Homo sapiens: one gene and its partners. The protein of the gene in region 3 purifies or fractionates together with the protein of the main gene of each other region. This does not show direct contact. Each region holds a gene or a part of one and is shown on either strand. Other genes may lie near its edges. The genes, in order: FLNB, RMND5A, LAD1, FLNC, MAEA, PCYT2 and ARMC8.

Region 1 (3,500 bases), on a different chromosome or scaffold from region 3:
TACGTATTTGTTTAGATCAGGGTCTGAAAAATCCCCTGATTTCTAATTTTCACTTGAAAAATAATCAAAAAGTTTTCCTATACTTATAAAAATGTGTCTCCTCCAAAACACTGGAAAAAATACCAAACTATGAAAACCACTTCACAGCCACCACCCAAGGTAACCACCATAAACACTGTAGTAAATCCCTTCCACACGTCATGATTCACTGTTACATAAAGAATGTAGGTTCATCGCAGGAAAATTAGAAAATTCAGATAGAAAAATCATCCTTTCTCATCCACAGAATCATTTTTTGATATTTCATTATATGTCATCCCAAACTTTTACACTGCTTATACATAGACTATTTTATGTCAATAGAAAGATGTGAATTCCACAGGCACATCTTTGGTGGGTAGGGGGTGGGGGGATTGGGAGGGTCCTTGGCCTTGTCAGCCAAGGCCAGACTCATCCATTTGCCCAGAAAGCCAGATCCTAGTTGTATGGGGGTGGGATCCTAGGGGTTTAGAAGACATTATGGGTGTGAGATACAGGTGTGGTGGCTTTTGTGTTGGGGTGCGCGGGCTCTCCTGGGGTTACTGTGTAGGGTACTCGCCTGTCCTCTGGCTGAGAGACCCCTCTTGATCTGGCCATTCATGCCTGTCCCCCTCCCTCCTGTATCTTAGGCCAGCGTCTAGTTAGCCCTGGCTCAGCCAACGAGACCTCATCCATCCTGGTGGAGTCAGTGACCAGGTCGTCTACAGAGACCTGCTATAGCGCCATTCCCAAGGCATCCTCGGACGCCAGCAAGGTGACCTCTAAGGGGGCAGGGCTCTCAAAGGCCTTTGTGGGCCAGAAGAGTTCCTTCCTGGTGGACTGCAGCAAAGCTGGTAGGTGTCTGGGCCTTTTCAAGGGTGGGGTGGGGCAGGGGCAGGCTGGGCACCCTGGGTACACTGGCCTTCCCTGCTGAGGTCTCCTGCAGTGCCCACCCCCATGTAGGCCAGCCGTTTGCAAGTAACCATCGTCATGACCCTGTTCTCCTGCACTTAATATTTTTAAATGATTTCCTTCTCTTTTGCCTTTTGAACTTGGGTATTTATTTGGGTTTCAAGGGTCGGTTGCCTGGGTTCTGGCATCCAGTACACCTGGGCTGGAAACCTAGTACCGCCACTTCATTCATTCATTCGTTTGTTCTAAAACTTATTTAGCCATGTGACCTTGGAAAGTTATTAAATCTCTTTCCAAAAGTCAGTTTCCTCTTCTCGGAAGTACCTTCCTTAAGGTGCTTGTGAGAGTAAACAAGAAGATTCTCATAGCCAACACTTAGAATAGCCCTTACTGTGTGCTAGGTTTTGACACCCATAACTCTTAAACCTCACAACTAGTTCGTGAGGTATGTGCTGTTCTCATTCCCTGTTTACAGATGGGGAAGCTGAGCTAGGGAGAGGTGAGATTCCAGTCCAAGGTCACCCAGGTAGCAAGTGGCAGGGCAGGGATTCGAACCCACACCGTCAGGCTCTATGAGCCTCTGCTTGTAATTGCCACGCTCTCCCACCTCTTAGGGGCCCCAGCATTATCGTGGAAGCACCTTACCTTTGGCTCTCATATTTCCTCTTCTTCCTGTGCCTGTCCTGATGCATCCGGGTGGAGTAACCACCTTTTGCCTCCTAGGCTCCAACATGCTGCTGATCGGGGTCCATGGGCCCACCACCCCCTGCGAGGAGGTCTCCATGAAGCATGTAGGCAACCAGCAATACAACGTCACATACGTCGTCAAGGAGAGGGGCGATTATGTGCTGGCTGTGAAGTGGGGGGAGGAACACATCCCTGGCAGCCCTTTTCATGTCACAGTGCCTTAAAACAGTTTTCTCAAATCCTGGAGAGAGTTCTTGTGGTTGCTTTTGTTGCTTGTTTGTAATTCATTTTATACAAAGCCCTCCAGCCTGTTTGTGGGGCTGAAACCCCATCCCTAAAATATTGCTGTTGTAAAATGCCTTCAGAAATAAGTCCTAGACTGGACTCTTGAGGGACATATTGGAGAATCTTAAGAAATGCAAGCTTGTTCAGGGGGCTGAGAAGATCCTGAGTACACTAGGTGCAAACCAGAACTCTTGGTGGAACAGACCAGCCACTGCAGCAGACAGACCAGGAACACAATGAGACTGACATTTCAAAAAAACAAAACTGGCTAGCCTGAGCTGCTGGTTCACTCTTCAGCATTTATGAAACAAGGCTAGGGGAAGATGGGCAGAGAAAAAGGGGACACCTAGTTTGGTTGTCATTTGGCAAAGGAGATGACTTAAAATCCGCTTAATCTCTTCCAGTGTCCGTGTTAATGTATTTGGCTATTAGATCACTAGCACTGCTTTACCGCTCCTCATCGCCAACACCCCCATGCTCTGTGGCCTTCTTACACTTCTCAGAGGGCAGAGTGGCAGCCGGGCACCCTACAGAAACTCAGAGGGCAGAGTGGCAGCCAGGCCCACATGTCTCTCAAGTACCTGTCCCCTCGCTCTGGTGATTATTTCTTGCAGAATCACCACACGAGACCATCCCGGCAGTCATGGTTTTGCTTTAGTTTTCCAAGTCCGTTTCAGTCCCTTCCTTGGTCTGAAGAAATTCTGCAGTGGCGAGCAGTTTCCCACTTGCCAAAGATCCCTTTTAACCAACACTAGCCCTTGTTTTTAACACACGCTCCAGCCCTTCATCAGCCTGGGCAGTCTTACCAAAATGTTTAAAGTGATCTCAGAGGGGCCCATGGATTAACGCCCTCATCCCAAGGTCCGTCCCATGACATAACACTCCACACCCGCCCCAGCCAACTTCATGGGTCACTTTTTCTGGAAAATAATGATCTGTACAGACAGGACAGAATGAAACTCCTGCGGGTCTTTGGCCTGAAAGTTGGGAATGGTTGGGGGAGAGAAGGGCAGCAGCTTATTGGTGGTCTTTTCACCATTGGCAGAAACAGTGAGAGCTGTGTGGTGCAGAAATCCAGAAATGAGGTGTAGGGAATTTTGCCTGCCTTCCTGCAGACCTGAGCTGGCTTTGGAATGAGGTTAAAGTGTCAGGGACGTTGCCTGAGCCCAAATGTGTAGTGTGGTCTGGGCAGGCAGACCTTTAGGTTTTGCTGCTTAGTCCTGAGGAAGTGGCCACTCTTGTGGCAGGTGTAGTATCTGGGGCGAGTGTTGGGGGTAAAAGCCCACCCTACAGAAAGTGGAACAGCCCGGAGCCTGATGTGAAAGGACCACGGGTGTTGTAAGCTGGGACACGGAAGCCAAACTGGAATCAAACGCCGACTGTAAATTGTATCTTATAACTTATTAAATAAAACATTTGCTCCGTAAAGTTGCCTTGGTGTTCTTGGATGATGTCGCTTCTGAATAAATTGTTTAATCCTAGGAGTTCAACACCCTCAGCCTGGGTAACAGCAAGACCCAGCCTCTACAAAAAATTAAAAAATTAGCCAGCATGGTGATGCATGCCTGCAGTCCCAGCTACTCAGGAGGCGGAGGCAG
Region 2 (3,500 bases), on a different chromosome or scaffold from region 3:
ATTTATACATCAACAAATTCCATTTTAATGAACACTATTATGTCACCTGCCAGTCTAAATGAATACGGTGCCAAATAAAAAAGAATTAATTATCTCCAGAGTACGTCTGGAAAAAGAATGGCTAACAAAGTTAAATCTACTTCTAAACCCAACTGGAAACACCAATATACTGACTTTTTATTCTTACCACCTAAAATGGCCTAAATAACTTGAGAACCAGTCTGTTCTTCTCTTAGAATGTTTGAACAATGTCCTCCCAAACTTTTATTTATGACCTACTGATATACTATTTTCCAGACTAGATGTTAAAAACAGATATCAAATTGTATTCAAAACAAAGTCACTATTCTCTCAAGAGTGTCTTGTTAGTATTTAGCAAAAGTCTGGGTAACAAATGGGCAACCTGGCTATGAGGCCTACTCCATGCACACCAAAGAATAAGGCTAAAAAGGTAAACAAGCTACAAGTCTACCAAGCCCCGATATAATACATTTACTTTCATTCAAAACAATATATTCAACACTGGTCGGCTCTGAAAAAGCACAGATCATTCATATATACAAATAAGCATACTTTTCAACACATGTGTTTAATATACACAACCCAAATTCTAGATTGGAAGATTATACCTAACATGCGACCCTCAACCTCTGGTTTTTGTGTACTGATGCAATATCATACCACAGCAATGAGTTAAAAATGTGACCTCCACAAGTTTCTTTTTTTGTTTTTCATGTTTTACTTGCCTACTTACCTTCTCATTTGTTACCTTCACATTTTTAAAAAGAAAGCAGTTCTCCAACTGGTAACCAAAGTTTCAACAGTTTCTTTGATTCACCAAAGAGATAAGGGTAGGAGTTATGGTTTACATGAGTTTTACTACTAGAAGTCACAACATACACACACACCAAAGGAGTTTTAGGTGCTAATACAGTATATGTTGATCACTCCCACAGATGAAGACATCTTTACCAACTTGCAAAGTGAGATAACACTAAGCCTTAATCATAGTAAATGGAAATACATATCTGATGCGTTAAAGAAAAAAGGAAAAGTGACAAATCGTCATTTCACTGGATTCTTTTAAAATTTTTTCTGGAGGTCGGGCGCAGTGGCTCACGCCTGTAATCCCTGCAGTTTGGAAGGCCGAGGCGCGTGGACTGCTTGAGGTCAGGTGTTCAAGACCAGCCTGACCCACATGTTGAAACCCCGTCTCTACTAAAAATACAAAAATTAGCCAGGCATGGTGGCAGGTGGTGCCTGTAATCCCAGCTACTCAGGAGGCTGAGGCAGGAGAATTGCCTGAAGCCAGGAGGCGGAGGTTGCAGTGAGCTAAGATCGCACCACTGCACTCCAGCCTGGGTGACAGAGGGAGGCTGTCTCAAAAAACAACAAAAAAATTTTTTTTCTGGAGACTGGCATTTATGTCTGTGAAGTGGGCAACCAGGTGGTCCAGGAACAAGAGTAGAAAGATTTTTCAATGGGTGTCCTTTTTTATCATTTGAGTTTATACCATTTGAATGTACTATTCACTGGGTTATCTTTTTCATTGTTTGAATGGATACCATTTGAATGTATGACTTACTAAAAATTAATAAATAAATTTTAAATTTAGAAAATTCCTTGAAAGTCACTTTCAGAAACCACATTAGAACTCCGTTAGTCTAAAAATAATCAGAAAAGAATACTGCATGTCCTTTACTCTTACAAAAACTGCAATTTTCCCAAGTATACTTTTAAATGTGTCCTGAAACCATTACCAACTGTTTCTGCCTAATTTTCTTTCACAAAGTATGAGTGCAGAATACCAGCAAAACATGATAAATAGTTCTTTTCTGTTTTTCCCTTCCACCACAGAGGTGCTAATGGGAAACAATATAAATTTGCCAATAGGAAAAAAATGCTAAAAGGCATATACTCACAAATCAAATCACTAAAAGTTAACCATACAGTAGTTAACCCTGTTAAGCCAGGGTTATCCAAAGCACCGCTCCCATACCACTGATGCGAATGGTAATTTTAGCTAGTATGTAAACTAATATTTTAATTGTTATGAATTTATTTTAACATGTAGTTTATTATACCTAATACCTACATACCACATGTAGGACTACACAAATATCACTGCCTAAGATAAATCTACTTAAGTAAAATCGTGAATCCATCTGAAAAATAAGAGTGCACATGTGTATGAGTGAAGTTTTAGAAGCACCAGTGCACTATACAAATTAGATCGAGGCACACTGGGAATGACCACCAGCCTACATTAACCACAATGAACTTAGACCAAACTTCGTGCTCACAGGGAAACTCTCACTGAAAGGCTGGCACAACTAAATGACAGAAGCTGTGATCTCTATTCCTCTTACCTTGGACACCTCACTGCAGGCTCTGGATCACTCCCCACCCTCCTATCTACCACCCTAAGGTTTCTAATTCCAAAGGCATGAAGAGAAGTCTAGAGTCAGTCTCCAGGGAGAGGAATGTCTTGGCCTCGGCAGAGCTCTTCAGTATTCTCCCTGGTTCTTATTGCCTCTTCATGTTTCTATTACACCTATGTTGTCCCTGAACCACCAATATTCCCTAACTGTCTATGGCACCAAGTCGAAGCCTGCACTTCCCTCTCAGAGCCTTATATTCCATTATTGTTCTCTGCTGCAGGCCTGATACCAGTCCAACCCCATTTAAAAGAAAAAAAAAAAAAGATATTCCTGTTGTCAGGCTGACGGATTTGGCCAGAGGTGGATTAAATGGCAGAGCACAAACCAATTCACCAGGTATGAGAGACCAGCCCATACTATCCTCATTTCCCCAAGTGTATCTGCATTAAGAAACTTGCATTTTAAAAAAGATTAACGAGAGAAATTTTATGTAAAAGAATTTCAAGCTACTTAAAGGTGATTTAGACCACCTGAGAAATTTTAGGGCTCACTGCAGGACTATCTCCCAGCCAGCAATCAGGCAGTATTTACAATCTGGAATAAGGGTGCTGAGACTAGAAAAGGGTTGTCAATGGGCTTACTAACTAAACTCTTATTTATGTATGATCAGTTTCCATCACAAACTATCCTAACAGCTCATTTAGTATATAGCTGTCTGCTCACAACTTCAGAGATGAAAAAAAAATTTTAACATAAAACATTCATCCTCAGAAACTGAACCAATCCCTTTAGGTTGGCTAAAGGATGCTTCTGCAACAGTCATTCACCAGTATGATGCAATGATGTGTTCTATATAGTCCTCAAAAATTCTGTTTTATTCATACCAGATTCTTGCAAGTATTACCACAAGTAATCTCAGAGAATGAGGTCCAAAGTCCTGACAGAGGGGTCCCAATTAGAGCCTCTCAGGTTATCAGAATCATTTGCCCAGACAGGTATATTCAGAAGCCCAAAAATCTTCCCTTTAAACTTGAAAATAGAGTTCCAAACTCAGTTTTCAGTAAAATACCTTTGAGAAGGGCATATTTAAGTTTCAATGTAATATCTACCACATCACCT
Region 3 (3,500 bases):
TCAGCACAGCTGGGGAAACCCAGGACCCTCCCGAGGCAGGCTCCTCTAGGGCTGGGAGAAGAGACCAAATGCCCTCTAGGCCTGCACTGGCTACTAGCAGCTCAGAAGTGCTTGAAACGTGGCTGGTGTGAACCAAGGCATGCTGTGTGAAATACACACTGGATCTTGAAGACCAGTGAAAGGTCTCATTAAGAACTATGTACATCGGCCAGGCGCGGTCGCTCATGCCTATGATCCTAGCACTTTAGGAGGCTGAGACACGCGGATTGCCTGAGCTCAGGAGTTTGAGACCAGCTTGAGCAACATGGCAACCTCCATCTCTACAAAAATACAAAAAAAAAAAAAAGATTAGCCGGGTGTGGTGGTGCACACCTGTAGTCCCAGCTACTGAGGAGGTTGAGGCACGAGAATCACTTGAACCCAGGAGGCAGAGGTTGCAGTGAGTCGAGATTGTGTCACTGCACTCCAGCCTGGGTGACACAACAAGACTCTGTCTCAAAAAAGAAAGAAAAAAATTGTGTATATTGATTGTGTGTTGAAGTGGCAATATTGTGGATATATTGGGGTAAATGAGCTATAATATTAAAATTAATTTTGTTTTTTCCTTTTTTTTGAAACAGGATCTCGCTGTGTTGCTCAGATTGGAGTGCAGTGGCACAATCACAGCTCACTGCAGCCCCAACCTCCCAGGCTCAAGTGATCCTCCCACCTCAGCCTCCTGAGTAGCTAGGACTACAGGTGTGCACCACTACACCTGGTTAATTTTTAGATTTTTTGTAGAAATGAGGTCTCACAATGTTGCTCAGCTGGTCCTAGACTCCTGGGCTCAAGCAATCCTCCCACCTTGGCCTCCCAAAGTGCTGGGATTACAGGCATGAGCCACTGTGCTGGGCTGCTTTTTACTTTTTTAATGTGACTACTCAAAAACTTAACATTTTAGGCCGGGCGCGGTGGCTCACACCTGTAATCCCAGCACTTTGGGAGGCTGAGGAGGGTGGATCACCAGAGATCAAGACTTGGTGAAACCCTGTCTCTACTAAAAATACAAAAAAAAAAAAAAAAATTAGCTGGGCATAGCGGTGCATGCCTATAATCCCAGCTACTCGGGAGGCTGAGGCCAGAGAATTGCTCGAACCTGGGAGGCAGAGGTTGCAGTGAGCCGAGATAGTGCCATTGCACTCCAGCCTGGGCAAGAGTGAAACTCCATCTCAAAAAAAACTTAACATTTTAAATGTAGTTCAAATCATACGTCTATCAAATTCCTAGTAAAGCTGCAGGGCTTTGGATTAGACTGGGGTTTCTCCAGCTCAGCACTGTTGACACTTTGGCCAGACAATTGCGTGTCCAGGGCTGTCCTGGATCACAGGACGTTTAGCAGCATCTCTAGCCTCTACCTGCTGGGTGCCAGTAGTACATGCCCCAGATGGGACAACCAAAATGTTTCCTGACATTGCCAAATGTCTCCTGGGGGGCAAAGTCACCCCACATAGGAACCACTGGGTTGAACTGTACTCTGGACCCCGGGATGAGAATGGGAGGGCCTCCATCACCGGGGGTGACTAGGAACGTGGAAGGGCGGGCCTGGTCCTGCCTGAAGGAAACAGATGAACTTGCCAAGTGCCTTTCTCTTTTTGGTCCTGGGATTCTTAGGTAATATCCATCAGTGGACAGTCATGGAGATATTTCCTCACTCAATTCCCCATGGAATTTCTTAGCTTTTGGGAAGGGAAGACTTACAAACAAAACCATTTACCCATGGAAAAAACTCCAATATCGCCTTCCTTTCACTTCCCAGGGGCTCTTGGAGCCTCCCTCACCTTTCAGATGGAAAGAGCTTCGTGGAAAGAGTTGAGCCATGGAGCTCCACAGATCTGGATGAAAATCCAGACAACTTTCACTTCTCTGGGGAGCAAGGGGACCCCACACTCTACTTTTGGTTCCTGCCCCAGTCACCCTTCATTCATGGGGCCAAGCAGGCATTCTACAGCCAGCCAGGCAACTCCACCAGTCTATCCATCTACTACTCGCCCACACATCCATGTACTCAGCCACTCAGCTGTTTCCACCATCTTTATCCACCTGCCCTACCTACCACCTCCCACCAGCCCATCTTCCATCCACCCCACCCCTTCCAGTCCAACCAAACAGCAAATGAAAACTGAATGACTATGACAAGCCAGCACCATGTCAGGAACTGTGTGGGCATCACAGAACATGGCAGGGTCTCTGCCCTGGAGATATTGACAATCCAGTGAAAAAGAGAAGTGTGTCCACCAATAACTCCCCCAACCAAAGTGCATAAGTTGTTCTTCAGTGTGAGAGAACAGATGCTATAGGCCAAGATTATCAGAAAAGGCTCATGGAAGAGATGAACCGGGCTGCATCTCAGTGAACAAACAGGCTTTCGATGGGGTGGGGCTGGCAGTCCAGGCAGAGGGAAGGTACCGAGGTTCAGGGTTTGCTGGGGACAGGAGGCTGAGCTTCACCCCGGGAGACAGGAGGGGGTGTGAGCAGGGGAGTACCAGGCTGTGAAAGTCAGCTGGGGGAGCCCTTCTCTGTGGTTCCCCCTGCATTGTCTGCAAATCAGGTTAAAAGGTTCTAGAAAAGGCCTCTTTCTTCCCTCCCAGAGTTATAGCAACGACTGCAAGGCCTCCTCTTGCCACTGCCAGATGCCAAACTCTCTACCCTTTGCTGTCCCAGCCTCTCCTGCTGCTCAGCCCTAGTTCCCACTGAGCCTGTCTCCTCCACAGGGAGTCTGTGGTAAGGCAAGGTCAGGTGATCTGGTTTCTAGTCCTCCTGCCCTTTGGCAAGTTACTTCCTTTTCTCTTCCTCAGTTTTCCCTCCTAAAATGAGAAGGATGAACCACATGAACCGCTCCGATTTTTTTCTAGGTCCAGCATCCCCTGGATTGAGCCAATATTCACTAAAAAATTACTTTTGAGGACCTACTATGTACCAGGCACGATTCCAGGGGCTGGGAACAGCTGGGAATGAGACCAACAGGGTCTTCCCCTTCACAGGGCACACATCCAGCATGGGGGAGTCAGACCATGAGCAAGGAAACAAGCCCATGAACAAAATGACACCAGCTAAGTGTCACTAGGACAAGGGAACAAAGTAAGTGACATGAGAGAAGGTGGCTGGGTGGGAAAGCCCCCTCGGAGAGCCCTGGTTCATGAGGAGGAGGCAGCAGAGCCAGATCCGTCAGCCAGTGTTCCAGGAGGAGGATCCAGCCAGTGCAGAGCCTGCATGTGAGGAGCTGGGTATTCAGGGGAAGACGGGAAACCAGGGCCAGAGTGGCCCACAGGGAAGCTGGAGAGGGAAGCAAGGCCAGAGCAGAGGGCCTTGGAGACCAGGGAAAGGACTTGGGTTTTATTCCAGGTGTGCTGGAGAGCCCTGGAGAGTGTTACACAGAAAAACAACATGATGGGATCGCTCTATTTTTAATCTCTCTGGCTGCTGTATGAAAAAAAAAAACATTGAAAGGGCCAGGGGAGAGG
Region 4 (3,500 bases), on a different chromosome or scaffold from region 3:
CCAGATGGGGATCAAGTATGACGGCAACCACATCCCTGGTGAGTTAGGGGCTGGGCTGGGCTGGGGCTTGGGTGAGAGGAGCAGGCCGTAGCTTCAGTCCTGCCTTCCCTCTTTCAACAAATATTTATTGAGCACCCGCTGTGTGCAGACACCAGGCGAGGCCCCAGGGAGGCTTATACCCTGGTGGGAAGCAGACCTCCACCAGCTGGGTCCCTACGGCACAGACGGAGGGGGTTGGCAGGGAGGCTGCTGGAAGGTGCTGGGGCCAAGGTGGGCTCAGATAATCCCTGATGCTGACCCAGCCCCCTTTTTCTCTGTATCCCCAGGGAGCCCCTTACAGTTCTATGTGGATGCCATCAACAGCCGCCATGTCAGTGCCTATGGGCCAGGCCTGAGCCATGGCATGGTCAACAAGCCAGCCACCTTCACTATTGTCACCAAAGATGCTGGAGAAGGTGAGGGAGCTGCAGGTCGCAGGCTGGGGTGGAGACTCACCAGGGGCAGGGGTGAGGGCAGGACCTCTGATCTTGGCCACACCTCCACCTACAGGGGGTCTGTCACTGGCCGTGGAGGGCCCATCCAAGGCAGAGATCACCTGTAAGGACAACAAGGATGGCACCTGCACCGTGTCCTATCTGCCGACTGCGCCTGGAGACTACAGCATCATCGTGCGCTTCGATGACAAGCACATCCCGGGGAGCCCCTTCACAGCCAAGATCACAGGTGAGGCGGGTGTATGGGCATGTACAGCCCATGAGGCACACACACCGCATACAGTGCACTCATGTGCAAGCCCAGCCCGTTCAAGTCACTCGTGACATTAGGGCAGAGGCCCTTCAAGGTGTGAGGGGTCATATTTTGATAAATGTAAAAACACTCTGTTCTCCACGGCAGCTAAGAAGCAGTCAGCCACTCCTTGTGCCTGAAAACACATTGCCTCATTTAGTCTTTGAAGTCATTTGTTTTGTTTTTGTTTTTGAGAGGGAGTCTTGCTCTGTCACCCAGGCTGGAGTACAGTGGCACGATCTCGGCTCACTGCAACCTCCGCCTCCCGGGTTCATGCCATTCTTCTGCCTCAGCCTCCCAAGTAGCTGGGACTCCAGGCGCCCGCCACCATGCCTGGCTATTTTTTGTATTTTTAGTAGAGACAGGGTTTCACCGTGTTAGCCAGGATGGTCTCGATCTCCTGACCTTGTGATCCACCTGCCTCGGCCTCCCAAAGTGCTGGGATTACAGGTGTGAGCCACCACGCCCAGCATGAAGTCACTCTTAAGAAGTTAGGGCACGGATAATCCTTTTGATAGATAAGGAACCCCTGTCCCAGAGAGGCCAAGCAACATGATTACAGCCACACAGCGAGGAAGGGGTCTGGGCGGTCCAGTCTAGTGTTTTGTTATCACAACATCATGTGACTCAGGGTTAAAATGCAGGAGGTTTCCTTTAGGGATTTAGCCCACAAGGACTGAGGCAGCCACAGTGGAATTGGGGTACAGGCCCCTCTTAGTCTCTGGCAGCTCACATGTGAGTGCAGACTGCACTTTCCAGGCCTTGGGCCTCCGTGCACCTGGGAGTGGCCCCCCGTGTCTGTTGAGTCCAGGGGGGGCTGCTCAGGAGGGTTCCTGAGCCCTGTGAGGGCAGGGCCTGCCTGGAGTCATAGCAGCCTGATGCCCCAACTCCCCCACCAGGTGATGACTCCATGAGGACCTCACAGCTGAATGTGGGCACCTCCACGGACGTGTCACTGAAGATCACCGAGAGTGATCTGAGCCAGCTGACCGCCAGCATCCGTGCCCCCTCGGGCAACGAGGAGCCCTGCCTGCTGAAGCGCCTGCCCAACCGGCACATTGGTGAGCGTGGGGCCTCACGGGGACCTCAGGGGTGGGGGCCCACAGGATGCTCTGCCTAACACCCACTTTCCACAGGGATCTCCTTCACCCCCAAGGAGGTCGGGGAGCACGTGGTGAGCGTGCGCAAGAGTGGCAAGCATGTCACCAACAGCCCCTTCAAGATCCTGGTGGGGCCATCTGAGATCGGGGACGCCAGCAAGGTGCGGGTCTGGGGCAAGGGGCTTTCCGAGGGACACACATTCCAGGTGGCAGAGTTCATCGTGGACACTCGCAATGCAGGTACCTCCTGCCCCAGAGAGCCCCCATTCCAGCGGGTGCCTCCCACAGGCACTTGTCCTCGTCCTGCCCAGCACCCCCTTGGCCGCACTCTCTCCTCCCTGAAACTTCCTGACCAGTCTGCGTCAGGATTCGCATTCTGGGGCCCCTTGCGGGAAAGTGAATGGCCCCGCATCAGTTCTCTCCCTTTTAAGAGAAAGCTCAGCTGTCCTGAGTTTCTGTCCCTCCCTTGCTCACTGGAATCCAAGAGGCTTACCTTAGGGAATTTTCCAGACCGCCTGTCCCGTGGTGCCCCCGCTCCTCCCACTGAGCCATTTTTGTTAGTGGTCACTACACACATCGGTGCCCATTCTGGGTGGAGCCTGCAGTCTGGGGAGAGGAAAGCATTGTGGCTTGGCCAGCCTAGGACTGAGGGAGATGTGTTCCTTGCTTTCCCCCAGGTTATGGGGGCTTGGGGCTGAGTATTGAAGGCCCAAGCAAGGTGGACATCAACTGTGAGGACATGGAGGACGGGACATGCAAAGTCACCTACTGCCCCACCGAGCCCGGCACCTACATCATCAACATCAAGTTTGCTGACAAGCACGTGCCTGGTAAGGCTCTGGGCAGAGGTCGGTGGCGAGAGACAGGGAGGCCAGGAGGCTGGGGCTCTGAGGTTCCTGACCCACCCTTTGTCCCCACTTCAGGAAGCCCCTTCACTGTGAAGGTGACCGGCGAGGGCCGCATGAAGGAGAGCATCACCCGGCGGAGACAGGCACCTTCCATCGCCACCATCGGCAGCACCTGTGACCTCAACCTCAAGATCCCAGGTAGAAGCCTGGAGGACCCTGGGTGGGGCGGGTGGTGGGAGAGGGCTGGCCCGGGCCAGAGCCCACCTGTCGGGCCTCCACCCTGCTTCCTCACCCCTCGCTTCCCTCCCTCACCCTGGCTCCCTTGACCACACAGGAAACTGGTTCCAGATGGTGTCTGCCCAGGAGCGCCTGACACGCACCTTCACACGCAGCAGCCACACCTACACCCGCACGGAGCGCACGGAGATCAGCAAGACGCGGGGCGGGGAGACAAAGCGCGAGGTGCGGGTGGAGGAGTCCACCCAGGTCGGCGGGGACCCCTTCCCTGCTGTGTTTGGGGACTTCCTGGGCCGGGAGCGCCTGGGATCCTTCGGCAGCATCACCCGGCAGCAGGAGGGTGAGCACCGCACACTGGGCCGGCCGGGTCCTCACGGCGGGATGGGAGGGTGCTGCGGACCAGGCTTGATGCTGGCAGACTGGCCCCGAAGGCCAGGGCAGGTCTGAGCAGAGGAGGAGGTTTAACTGATGGGGGAGGGAAGGGCCAGGGCTAGGAGGAATCCCAGTGTTGCCCTGACATCCCCCAAAC
Region 5 (3,500 bases), on a different chromosome or scaffold from region 3:
TCCAACCTCAACTTCATCCAACACCAGACACACTCGTCCACCAGGCATCCAATCTCAACTTCATCCAAACCAATCTCAACTTCATCCAACACCAGACACACTCATCCACCAGGCATCCAATCTCAACTCATCCAACACCAGACACGCTCATCCACCAGGCATCCAATCTCAACTCATCCAACGCCAGGCACACTCATTGACCAGGCATCCAATCTCAACTTCATCCAACACCAGACATACTCATCCACCAGGCATCCAATCTCAACTTCATCCAATACCAGGCACACTCATCCACCAGGCATCCAATCTCAACTCCATCCAACACCAGACACACTGATCCACCAGGCATCCAATCTCAACTTCATCCAACACCAAGCACGCTCATCCAATCTCAACTCATCCAACACAAGGCATGCTCACCCAATCTCAACTTATCCAACACCAGGCACGCTCATCCACCAGGCATCCAATCTCAACTTCATCCAACACCAGGCACACTCGTCCCCCAGGCATGCATTCAGGGCCCCGAGTCCTGGCCCTGCCTGTCCCCACAGCAGCTTCAGACAGGTCGTGTGCTCGTGGCAAGCCTCCAACACCCTCCAGCAACACTGTCCGGCAGGTAATTAGGGCTTGCAGGAATATCCTGGCAGCACCAAGAACCTATCTTCCCTCTGACATCCACAGGAAACAGCCCTGGCAGAGTTCCCACTGTGAGGTGTGTGCCGGCTCTCTGGGAGGGAGTGTGGGGCTGGCACTGTGTAGTGGGGCCGCAGGTTACATACCAATTCTGGCTTTCCTTTTAGGGTTTCCATACCAAGGTCCAAACTCTCTTTAGGGGAGCTACTAGCCGCTCTACTTTTTCGTCCCGTCTTTGCTTCGTGCTTGTTTTGGCGGCCCTGAGTGGCAGTGTGTCACTCCTGGCTGGTAACTGCGTGCACCCTGCCAAACTCAGCCAGGGTGAGGTTAAAGCAGCGCTCAGTTTAGAAGACAGAAAAGTTTTGCTAATGGAGGCAGAAGTGTTAACATAAGTTAAAACATTTCTGCAAGCCCCTAGGGTGACAATGCCTTTTAATAAGCAGGTTTAAATTTTGTCCTTTAGGAGTCCATTTCTTAAGCTTCTTTTGGTCTCTACAAAAGTCGGTACTCGGCCGGGCACGGTGGCTCACGCCTGTAATCCCAGCACTTTGGGAGGTTGAGGCAGGTGGATCACAAGGTCAGGAGATCAAGACCATCCTGGCCAACGTGGTGAAATCCCATGTCTACTAAAAATACAAAAATTAGCCGGGCATGGTGGCGCATGCCTATAATCCCAGCTACTCAGGAGGCCAAGGCAAGAGAATCGCTTGAACACCGGAGGCAAGTGAGCCAAGATCGTGCCACTGCACTCCACCCTGGCGACAAAGCGAGACTCCGTCTCAAAAAAAAAAAAAAAAAAAAAAAAAAAAAAGTGGGTATTCATTAACAATATCACAGCCCAGAGCTCTGCAGCCTCGCAGATGGAGAATGACTTCCCAACCAGCTTTTCTGTGTCTATGACTGAGCACAGGGAGCCCATGGAGTACCCCCATGGAGCAGGACTGACCTGTCTCCAGGCTCTAAGCCCAGCAGCCCCAACACTCTGTGTGCACATGGTCAGCCTCCTGTAACCCACTCCTTCTGAGCCTCATGCCAGCTGTACACAAACTGTAATGCCAAATGAGGTGCACTTTTCCAGATTTTAGCCTAAAAGTGTAACACAGCCACCAAAAAAACTCCCAAACCCAACCCCCACCTTACAAACCAAAACCAAACTACTGTGAACCACCAGGCAAGGGGGTGCTGGCTCCAGGGCAGGTGGCGCAGCCTCGGCCCCGACCCACTCCCACCCCAACCTGGGAGTCCGTGCACCTTCATCTTCCGGAGCCGGGACTTGTTGTCATGGCACCAGGCCAGGCAGGTGGCCGTCTCACGCCTCTCCAGGGACTCCTCCACCTCTTTGGCCGTCAGGAACATCTCAATATTCACTAGGTCCTTAGAGGAAGGAAGCAGCACCTGATCAGAATGTGCTGGCTCAAGGCCCCCATGCCACCCTCCCACACCCCAGCCTCCATGAGGCAGGCCCAGCACCGGCCACCACTCGAGATGCATCTCCAGTCCACACTGTGGGTCTGCACTCGTGGACTACTCAGGGCCGCTCTGAGATCCTAGGAACAGAACAGCCCCCAAGGACCAAAAGGTCGGACGCTCACGTAGACAGCAGCCATAGCCGGGCAAGGGAGCCAGGCTGGCCCCACCTGTCCATGGAGAGGAGCTGCTGAGACACACATGCAGGCAGGGCCAGGCCACATGCCAGGCGGCCCTGTCTCCACTCCCCACAGCCCCCCAGCACATCTACAGGCCCTCCCTGGGCAGCCCCCTCATTTCAAAATCAACAGTAAGCAAATAATAACATGCTAAATAATACATAAACACATTATGGCTAATATCGCGGTAGTTACAACCAATGATTTATATGAAAGCAAAGAAAAAAAAAAAAAACAACAAAAAAAACAGAGTAACCCAGGCTTAGCATCAAGTCTCCGCTAGTGGCCGGGCACAGGGGGTGGGTGCTCAGTGCCTAGCAGTGGAACCCATGGTCTCTGGCAGGGGCAGGACAGCAGCTGGTACGGGACTCCACCAGGCACGGCAAGGCTTGGGGCAAGCGCTCAGGTGGTCCTCAGCAGCAATGACTCCCGACCTTCCCCAGTGGGACCAAGGACGGCACCTCCGCCTGCACATAGCCCAGGACCCAACGGCCCAGGATGAGGCCACAGTTCACCACTTGGGTCCCACAGCCCCACGTCTGGACCACCGGCCTCACAGATGCGCTGTTTTCTTTGATGATTACTCTTTTCTGAAACCCCTCATAACGTTGTTTTCTTGCACCTTTTCTTTCATGATTTCTTGTTTCTGAAACCCCTTCATAGCATTTTCTTGCATGTTTGCTTTGATGATTTCTCTTTTCTGAAACCCCTCACAGTGTTGTTTCCTTGCATCTTTTCTTTAACGGTTTCTCGTTTCTGAAACCCCTTCATAGCGTTTTCTTGCATGTTTGCTTTGATGATATCTTTTTTAAAGCCCCTTCATAGCGTTTTCTTGCACGTTTGCTTTGATGATTTCTTTTCTGAAGCCCCTTCATAGCGTTTTCTTGCACATTTGCTTTGATGATTTCTTTTCTGAAGCCCCTTCATAGCGTTTTCTTGCATGTTGATTATTCTTTTCTGAAGCCCCTTCAAAGCATTTTCTTGCATGTGTGCTTTTGTTTGTTTTTTTGAGACGGAGTCTCGCTCTGCCGCCCAGGCTGGAGTGCAGTGGCGCAATCTCCACTCACTGCAAGCTCCGCCTCCTGGGTTCACACCATTCTCCTGCCTTGGCCTCCCGGGTAGCTGGGACTACAGGCGCCTGCCACCACGCCCGGCTAAATTTTTGTATTTTTAGTAGAGACAGGGTTTCACCGTGTTAGCCAGGATGGTCTCGATCTC
Region 6 (3,500 bases), on a different chromosome or scaffold from region 3:
TGACAATACTTTGCATCCTTCAATCCAGTCAAGCTGACACTCAGCATTCACCATCACACCTGGGAAGCATGGAACCCAGAAACAAGTGCCAGGGCTCCAGTGCCAGTGCCTGTCCTGGGAAGATACCCAAGAGAAGACATGACCAGGACCTTGGGGGAGCATGAAATGGTGAGGGCACAGTGAGCTTGAAGGCTGATGTCACCTGCCAGGAGAGCGGCTGGCAGTCCTGCCTGGTGCCCCCCAAGGGGCAGAGCTGGCAGAGAGGGGCCTCCAATCGAAGGCCAGGAGTCGTGGAGCTCCAGTGCCTTGGTGTGGCTGGCCTTCTTGCCCCCCTCCCAGAGGACCCCGCCAGTAACAGCCCTGCTGGTGGAACCTTCCCCAGTGGGCATGAAAGAAATGAGGGCCCCACAAGCCACATGGACTCTGATGCCTGGAGCCAAGAATACCCCTTAGGGTGGTAGAAACCGCCCCCGGGGCACTGTGCAGTGTGGCTGGCTCTCCAGCATCAGGAGTACTGGGGATTGCCTGGGGGACGACTCCTAGGGCTGGGCGCCCGTGGGCCCTCCCCTGCTGCCACTGCGGCCCACGCAAGCCGGGCCTGAAGGGCGCGAGCGGCATGGGTGGGGAGCTTGAGGGGGCGTTGGGCTCCCACCAAGCGCCAGATCCTTGCGCGCCTCCAGCGCTCGCCCGCGCGGCTGGTTCCTTTGGGATGCGGAGGTGCGACGGCTCCTCCGCGCGCGCCCGCTGCACCCCAGCCCGCCCGCCGCCCCTCCCGGCCCTCCGCAGCCTCGGCCCGCCCTCGCCGCAGATATAAGGCGGCCCAGGCGGTGGCTGCTCCGAGCCCGGACGCCGCCGCCCACCAGTCAGCCGGCGTCCCCATGGCCCGGTCCGCGACACTGGCGGCCGCCGCCCTGGCGCTGTGCCTGCTGCTGGCGCCGCCTGGCCTCGCGTGGTACAAGCCAGCGGCGGGGCACAGCTCCTACTCGGTGGGCCGCGCCGCGGGGCTGCTGTCCGGCCTCCGCAGGTCCCCGTACGCGCGGCGCTCCCAGCCCTACAGAGGGGCGGAACCCCCGGGCGGGGCCGGCGCCTCCCCGGAGCTGCAACTGCACCCCAGGCTGCGGAGCCTCGTGAGTCCGGCGTGCCGGGGACTGATGGGGGGCGGCGGCAGGACGTGGGTGGGGGTGCGGCGGCCCCTCAGCCTTTGCTTGCCTGCCCCCCAGGCTGTGTGCGTCCAGGACGTCGCCCCAAACCTGCAGAGGTGCGAGCGGCTCCCCGACGGCCGCGGGACCTACCAGTGCAAGGCGAACGTCTTCCTGTCCCTGCGCGCAGCCGACTGCCTCGCCGCCTGAGCCCGGACCTCTCCTGGCACCGCTGGGGGCCCCCCGCCCCCACCGTCCCACTCGGTGACCCCAGGCCCCTCCGGCGCGGGATGGCGCCCCAGGTCTCCCCTACTCCGCTCACCCCGCAGTTAATGGCAAACGAATAAATAAATGAGGCGGCCTCGGAGTGAGGGGTGCTGGAGGACTGGCAGCCAGGCCACGAGGGGAACGGGACCTGGAAATCCCCAAGCCTGGGTATGAGAAGGCAGCCGAGTGTGCGGCGGCAGGGCAAGGTTGGCCTGGGCCGCCCAGAGGTCTTCAGACCCAGGGGCGAAGCTGGCCACGACCCAGCCCCGCGGTGAAGCCGCGCCTAGCCTTGGTGCTCCCTGGGGGAAGTGCAGGGCCACGGCTGGCCCGGTTCCCAGTGTCCTCCCCCAGCCCTTCGCTCCCCAACTCGAGAGCCAAATCTGTGAGGGCATGGGCTGGAGCCCCTGGCTGCCTTCCTCTTGCCCCCATCCCTTCTGGCCAGGCCAAGTCCGAGGGTGCAGGGGCAAGGAGGAGAGTTGGGGGCCTGAGCCCTGGCTCCAGAGGCCCAGAGCATGCCTCCCCAGAGCTGAAGGTGGGAGATGGGTAGGTTCTCCCTCCGCCGTTGGGTGTGACTCCGGAACTGGCTTGGGCTCTGGCCTCCAATGCTGCTACGGGGCCAGGCCCACCTCCGGGCCCAGGCAGCAGCACTGCAGGGCCTTTCTACCCTCCCCAAGCCTGGGGCCCAGGCAGCCCCTGTCCAGCACCAATCTGTCTATGGGGAACTGGCTGGTCCCTCTGCTCAGGGGACCCCGCAGTCCAGGGTTCTGAGTGGGAGCATTGGCACCACCCCACTCCTGAAAGCGGGGGCCTGGCAGGATGAGGATGGCCTGTGCCCCCCACACCTTGGCCCCTGGCTCGGAGAGCAGGGTGACAGGCTGCCTTCCTGGGCTGTGGAGAGCCTCGCGTGCACCTCGCCTCCAGCTCCTGTGCTGGGTCGTGAGGTCGACCTCACAACAGCAGAGGACAGGCCCATGGGGTGCCACATGGGCCAGGTGCTGTAGGGCAGAGGCCATTCTGGAGAGGAATGTGGGGCTGAAAAAAGTACTGATCATAAGCCTCATTTTGAATGCGGCGAGACCAGGCAATCTATGGCCTCCCTAGACACCTCCCGGAGGCTGCAGTAAGAACCTCTTCGGCCTCTGGGCTGCTCCAGGCGGGCCGTGACAGGGGTGTGGGAGACAGAGATCCCATGGCCCCTGGAGGGGCCAAGGGGCAAGGAGCCTCAGCTCTGGCTCTCCTCCTTATTCTAGCATCGCCTGCTACAGGGGGTGGCCCCAGGCTTTGGAGGGCTGGAGGCCTGGGTTTCACTCACTGCCAGGCTGCCCGCTGCACTCCCGGCTGCTGGGTGCATGGTGGGGGCAGGGCCAAGAGGGTCTCCTTGCTGAGTGGTTCCCTGGTCCTTCCCAGCAGGGCTGGGAGCCCCGCGCAGCACTGCCACCAGGCTTTATTCGGTTGTACCAAAGAGATTTCCGTCAGCCATGTACAAACAGAACAGAGTCCATAAGGAGAGTGGCGAAGCTGCCGGGAAGGAAGGCAAGCGTGTTTTCCTGGAGCCAGGCGCTGGGTGGCAGGACACCGTGTTGGGGGGTGCCCAGTGGGAGGTGGTGTGGTCTACACCCAGAGAACTAAAGGGGTGACCGCAGTCACTGCTCCCTAAAGCCCTCTGCTCTGCACCTCCCGCCACAGCTGGGTGGGCAGTCAGTGTGGCCTCTGTCCAGGTGGTGGGGGCATCCGGGGACCAGGTGGGGGCGCACGCAGGAGCGGTGCGTTTCAGGCTGCAGGTGCCGTCTGCCCGTCTCACTTCCGGCCTCTCCACTGTGCTGGACACCCTCTCTGAGCAGCTTTGCTGGAAAGAGCGGAGAGCCTGCTGCAAACCAGGCACCTTGTAGGCAGGCAAGGAGGCAGAGTCCTCACCAGCCCTTCCAGAGCCAGGCCAGTTAGAGAGGGCGGCCCTGCAGAGTCCTATGTCCAAACGCAGAAGGCGCAGAAGCAGAGCAGGGGGAGGGCCGGCCAGGGCCTCTGCCAGGTTAGAAGTCACCATCGCGCTCCCCCAGGGGCTGTGCCGCCTGCTGCCTGGCAGCCTCCAGGAAGGCC
Region 7 (3,500 bases), on a different chromosome or scaffold from region 3:
GTTGTTCATTTGGCTTTTAACTTTGAAAATAAAGCAAACTATTAAGGGTATATCTTTACTCTGTCTTAAGAAGGGCCTAAAATAACCTTCACTGGTATTTGTATTAGTAATGTACTCTACTCTCTGGGTATTAAACTTATGTGTCTGCTCTTCTTTCAGTAGTGGTGTTTTTCCAGTAGAAGTGATGGGTTACATACATTTAACCAGTTGCCTTGTCTGTTTTCCTTCTGGTCATTTTTTCACACTGACACTGTATCTTACCAATACAAAGATACATGAGCAACCCTTAGCTACTGCCTCATGAACGCCCTGAGTTGACCACCCCAGGAAGGCAAATAAAATGTTTTGATGGCCATGAGAGTAAGGAAACAATTTTAAGAACATGTAGCCTATGCATATGCAAATCATTTAACTAGTACGTAGATTATCCCTTCTGTTAGTTTTTCCATTTCATTTCCATCAGAGTAAAACTGTAACAACAATAATCCTTAAAAATGACATCGTAATACCAAACTTGAGTAATAGTTTGTTTTGTCATCTTTATTTTTGATGATGGATTATCCAAAGGTTTCTGACCCGAAAAGTATAGACACTAGACCCGTAAAGAGAAATCTTCACATGTTAATAAATTTGTGATTTTCATGATATGTTAGTTCAAGTCAGTATTATATCTTAATTTATGACTAGAATGTAGTTAAGACTTTAAGAGTAGATACTTTTAGAACTTATCAAAGTGAGTATTCTGTATTGGGAAGTTCTTCCTATAATCCATCAGTGTCTGCTTTGAACAGAAGTTTTGGAACTATTAAGAATTGCCTTCAGAGCCACCCCAAATTATATATATATGTAAAATATATATATTGTCTTTTGCTTTCTGTGGAATTTTTTGTTACCTACGTTATATTACCCAACTGAATTTCTCCATCTTCACACACAGTCAGTGACAACTAAAAGTCTCATCATTGATCAAGCTATACCACTGTCAGTGTTTTCTAGCTAATAATACCAGTTAGCTCTTTAGGAAGTTTCAAAAGAGGGTCTCAGAATGTTATGAACAACACCTACATCATTGGATGAGTGAACCTTTCCAAAGTAACTTCTTTGGGAAAAGTGGTATTCATTTGGATGATTACATTAAGGCTTTTAGTTACGAGGTTATTTATATTATTGGTAGACTTTGTATAGTTACTTGGTCATAGTCAGTCATTGAAAGTATCCTGAAAATATGCTTCTGTTTTATCTTTACAGTAGTTTGGTGATCAAGTTTATAGAAGAGTTGATAATTAGTTATGCATGTTTAAAGATACCATTAATTGCTTCATGCTGATAATTTTGATAATGTTCTTGAAAAAACCCATACCCAACATAAATCTCAGATAACTGTAATAGATAATAATGGTTACCATAGTATACGGTTTGTTAAGCATTTTCACAATGGGTTCTCTGTTTCTAAAAGCTTTTTATTTTATTTATTTTTATTTATTTATTTATTTTTGAGATGTAGTCTCGCTCTGTTGCCCAGGCTAGAGTGCAGTGGCGCGATCTCGGCTCACTACAACCTCTGCCTCCTGGGTTCACACCATTCTCCCGCCTCAGCCTCCCAAGTAGCTGGGACTACAGGCGCCTGCCACCACGCCCAGCTCATTTTTTTGTATTTTTAGTAGAGACAGGGTTTTATCGTGTTAGCCAGGATGGTCTAGATCTCCTGACCTCATGATCCATCTGCCTCGGCCTCCCAAAGTGCTGGGATTACAGGCGTGAGCCACCGCGCCCGGCCTCTAAAAGCTTTTTAAATGCCAAAATTAGGCCAGCACTACTCTTAATGTTTCAGAAAATTAAGGGAACCCTCCTAAAGACATTGTTGCGATTTCATTCAGGTTATCAGCTGTAGTCTGGGGCTAGAGAAGTCCAGGTGTGCCTTCTTTTGAAGGAGAACATTTCAAAGAGCTGCTGCAAGCAAGCATTAGTGCCAGTAAAGCTACCATTTAGGAACACTGAATTTTTCGGAGTCAGAGATTCACAATGGTTTTTCATATATCAGTGTCAAATATAGTGTTCACTTTTAAATGGAAGCATATTGTGTGCATTTTAGGTCACATTGATACGAACACTGCAAAGTCTCAGTGCTATGTGAACAGAATCCAAAAATAACTGGGAAATGTAGTTAATGACTGGGAAATTCACTAAAATCTAAAAGTTGTAAACTTTTTTTTTCTTCAACTCAGTTAATGTTATTGAAAGTTGAATTTATGGACTGAGTTGGAACATATCCTTTTTTTCCCCATAGCTTGATCATGATTTAAAACATGCTCACGAACTCCGCCAGGCTGCATTCAAGCTCTATGCCTCTCTTGGAGCAAATGATGAAGACATCCGGAAGAAGGTGAGTCTGGGAGAGGGGCGTCCCCCAGTCCTGACAGCCAGCAGGCAGGGAGTGACGTCAACCTGAAAGTCGTGGTGAAGAGCACTAACAGTGACTGTTTGAATATAATAAAGCAGAGTGACTAAAGGCATAATTGAAGAATGAATGGGACCCGGATTTGGGGGGTTGTTTGTTTGTTTTTAGAACATAGAGTGGCATGGCCGTGCTGGAATGACAAATAACTGGCGTGCTTTTTTTTTGTGTCATTAATATGAATTATTATGTTGCACATTTTTGCATGTGTTCTGATAAAAATCAATTCTAGCACTGTGAAGCTTCAGACACCTTGAAAGTCCTAACATTAGAATTGTAAATGTTATTTATGGAAATACCTTCCAATGCTATTGAGAAATTCAAATCTCTATTGTATATTGTTCTTTGATATGTGGCTTAGTTTTATGTTTTGATTTTTTTTGCTACTGTGCAAGTTTAATGTGAATAAAATCTTTGTGGAATGATGATTTTATGTTTAGTGAGTGGTCATCTGAATTTTCCAGCTCCCCAGAAAATGTATGCACTGGTATAGCACCCTTATGTTACTAAAGCCTAGTCTAACACTGAACTCATGTTCTTGATGAGAATACTTCTAGATGAGGAGTATAGTGGTAAGTAAGCTCTGACTTGGCTCCTTCCACAAACCAAAAAGCTGGAACTTACCACTCAAAAACATGTATAACCTAATAAATTCTACACAAGGCTTTCAAGACCATCAGAGAGCAAAACCACATGTTCTGTCTTGAGGAGCCATAGCAGAAAGAGCAAATTAGTCATTATTTACTGAACATGATGATTTACTAAATCTCTCCATCTGCATTAGTATTTTAAGGAGCACTGTGAGAGAAATCACAAAGTATTAGAGTTTACCATGATTCAGAGAAGTTCTTCAGGCCTGTAGAAAGAGGAGTATGGAACAACCTTACATTTGTTGAAATAACTTGAAAAGGAACCATTTCTTGAAGAAACTGAAGTAATAGCAATAAGATTTGATGTGTGAGTAGCTTTGATTTAAAATCAATGCAAAAAGCACAACTAATAAATTGAATGTTTCCATGTACCTCACTTTATTTCAGTTAACAAG

Evidence for each region.
Region 1: the proteins of LAD1 (region 3) and FLNB purify together in Homo sapiens (affinity purification with mass spectrometry; one large-scale study listed by BioGRID and IntAct). This does not show direct contact.
Region 2: the proteins of LAD1 (region 3) and RMND5A purify together in Homo sapiens (affinity purification with mass spectrometry; one large-scale study listed by BioGRID and IntAct). This does not show direct contact.
Region 4: the proteins of LAD1 (region 3) and FLNC purify together in Homo sapiens (affinity purification with mass spectrometry; one large-scale study listed by BioGRID and IntAct). This does not show direct contact.
Region 5: the proteins of LAD1 (region 3) and MAEA purify together in Homo sapiens (affinity purification with western blotting; one study listed by BioGRID). This does not show direct contact.
Region 6: the proteins of LAD1 (region 3) and PCYT2 fractionate together in Homo sapiens (co-fractionation; one large-scale study listed by BioGRID). This does not show direct contact.
Region 7: the proteins of LAD1 (region 3) and ARMC8 purify together in Homo sapiens (affinity purification with mass spectrometry; one large-scale study listed by BioGRID and IntAct). This does not show direct contact.

Annotation. Positions count from the first base shown.
Region 1 is NC_000003.12:58,168,922-58,172,421, forward strand, and holds the end of FLNB (filamin-B), read left to right. Parts: intron 1-668; coding exon 669-872; intron 873-1,575; exon of another isoform or gene 1,576-1,653; coding exon 1,654-1,841; 3' UTR 1,842-2,855; coding exon of another isoform or gene 2,856-2,952; 3' UTR 2,953-3,149; coding exon of another isoform or gene 3,150-3,240; 3' UTR 3,241-3,330; downstream 3,331-3,500. Other genes in the region: uncharacterized protein LOC124909485, read left to right, coding at 2,856-2,952, 3,150-3,240. UniProt on the Homo sapiens protein: Connects cell membrane constituents to the actin cytoskeleton. May promote orthogonal branching of actin filaments and links actin filaments to membrane glycoproteins. Anchors various transmembrane proteins to the actin cytoskeleton.
Region 2 is NC_000002.12:86,723,291-86,726,790, reverse strand, and holds part of RMND5A (E3 ubiquitin-protein transferase RMND5A), read right to left. Parts: intron 1-3,500.
Region 3 is NC_000001.11:201,389,325-201,392,824, forward strand, and holds part of LAD1 (ladinin-1), read right to left. Parts: intron 1-3,500. UniProt on the Homo sapiens protein: Anchoring filament protein which is a component of the basement membrane zone.
Region 4 is NC_000007.14:128,850,906-128,854,405, forward strand, and holds part of FLNC (filamin-C), read left to right. Parts: coding exon 1-38; intron 39-326; coding exon 327-455; intron 456-495; exon of another isoform or gene 496-549; coding exon 550-723; intron 724-1,685; coding exon 1,686-1,847; intron 1,848-1,922; coding exon 1,923-2,126; intron 2,127-2,379; exon of another isoform or gene 2,380-2,492; intron 2,493-2,563; coding exon 2,564-2,716; intron 2,717-2,809; coding exon 2,810-2,932; intron 2,933-3,068; coding exon 3,069-3,311; intron 3,312-3,500.
Region 5 is NC_000004.12:1,320,891-1,324,390, reverse strand, and holds part of MAEA (E3 ubiquitin-protein transferase MAEA), read right to left. Parts: intron 2,011-3,500; coding exon 1,888-2,010; intron 1-1,887.
Region 6 is NC_000017.11:81,901,400-81,904,899, forward strand, and holds part of PCYT2 (ethanolamine-phosphate cytidylyltransferase), read right to left. Parts: coding exon 3,434-3,500; 3' UTR 1,350-3,433; coding exon of another isoform or gene 1,221-1,349; 3' UTR 1,128-1,220; coding exon of another isoform or gene 879-1,127; 3' UTR 1-878. Other genes in the region: NPB (neuropeptide B preproprotein), read left to right, coding at 879-1,127, 1,221-1,349. UniProt on the Homo sapiens protein: Ethanolamine-phosphate cytidylyltransferase that catalyzes the second step in the synthesis of phosphatidylethanolamine (PE) from ethanolamine via the CDP-ethanolamine pathway.
Region 7 is NC_000003.12:138,242,801-138,246,300, forward strand, and holds part of ARMC8 (armadillo repeat-containing protein 8), read left to right. Parts: intron 1-2,287; coding exon 2,288-2,383; coding exon of another isoform or gene 2,384-2,449; exon of another isoform or gene 2,450-3,500. UniProt on the Homo sapiens protein: Component of the CTLH E3 ubiquitin-protein ligase complex that selectively accepts ubiquitin from UBE2H and mediates ubiquitination and subsequent proteasomal degradation of the transcription factor HBP1.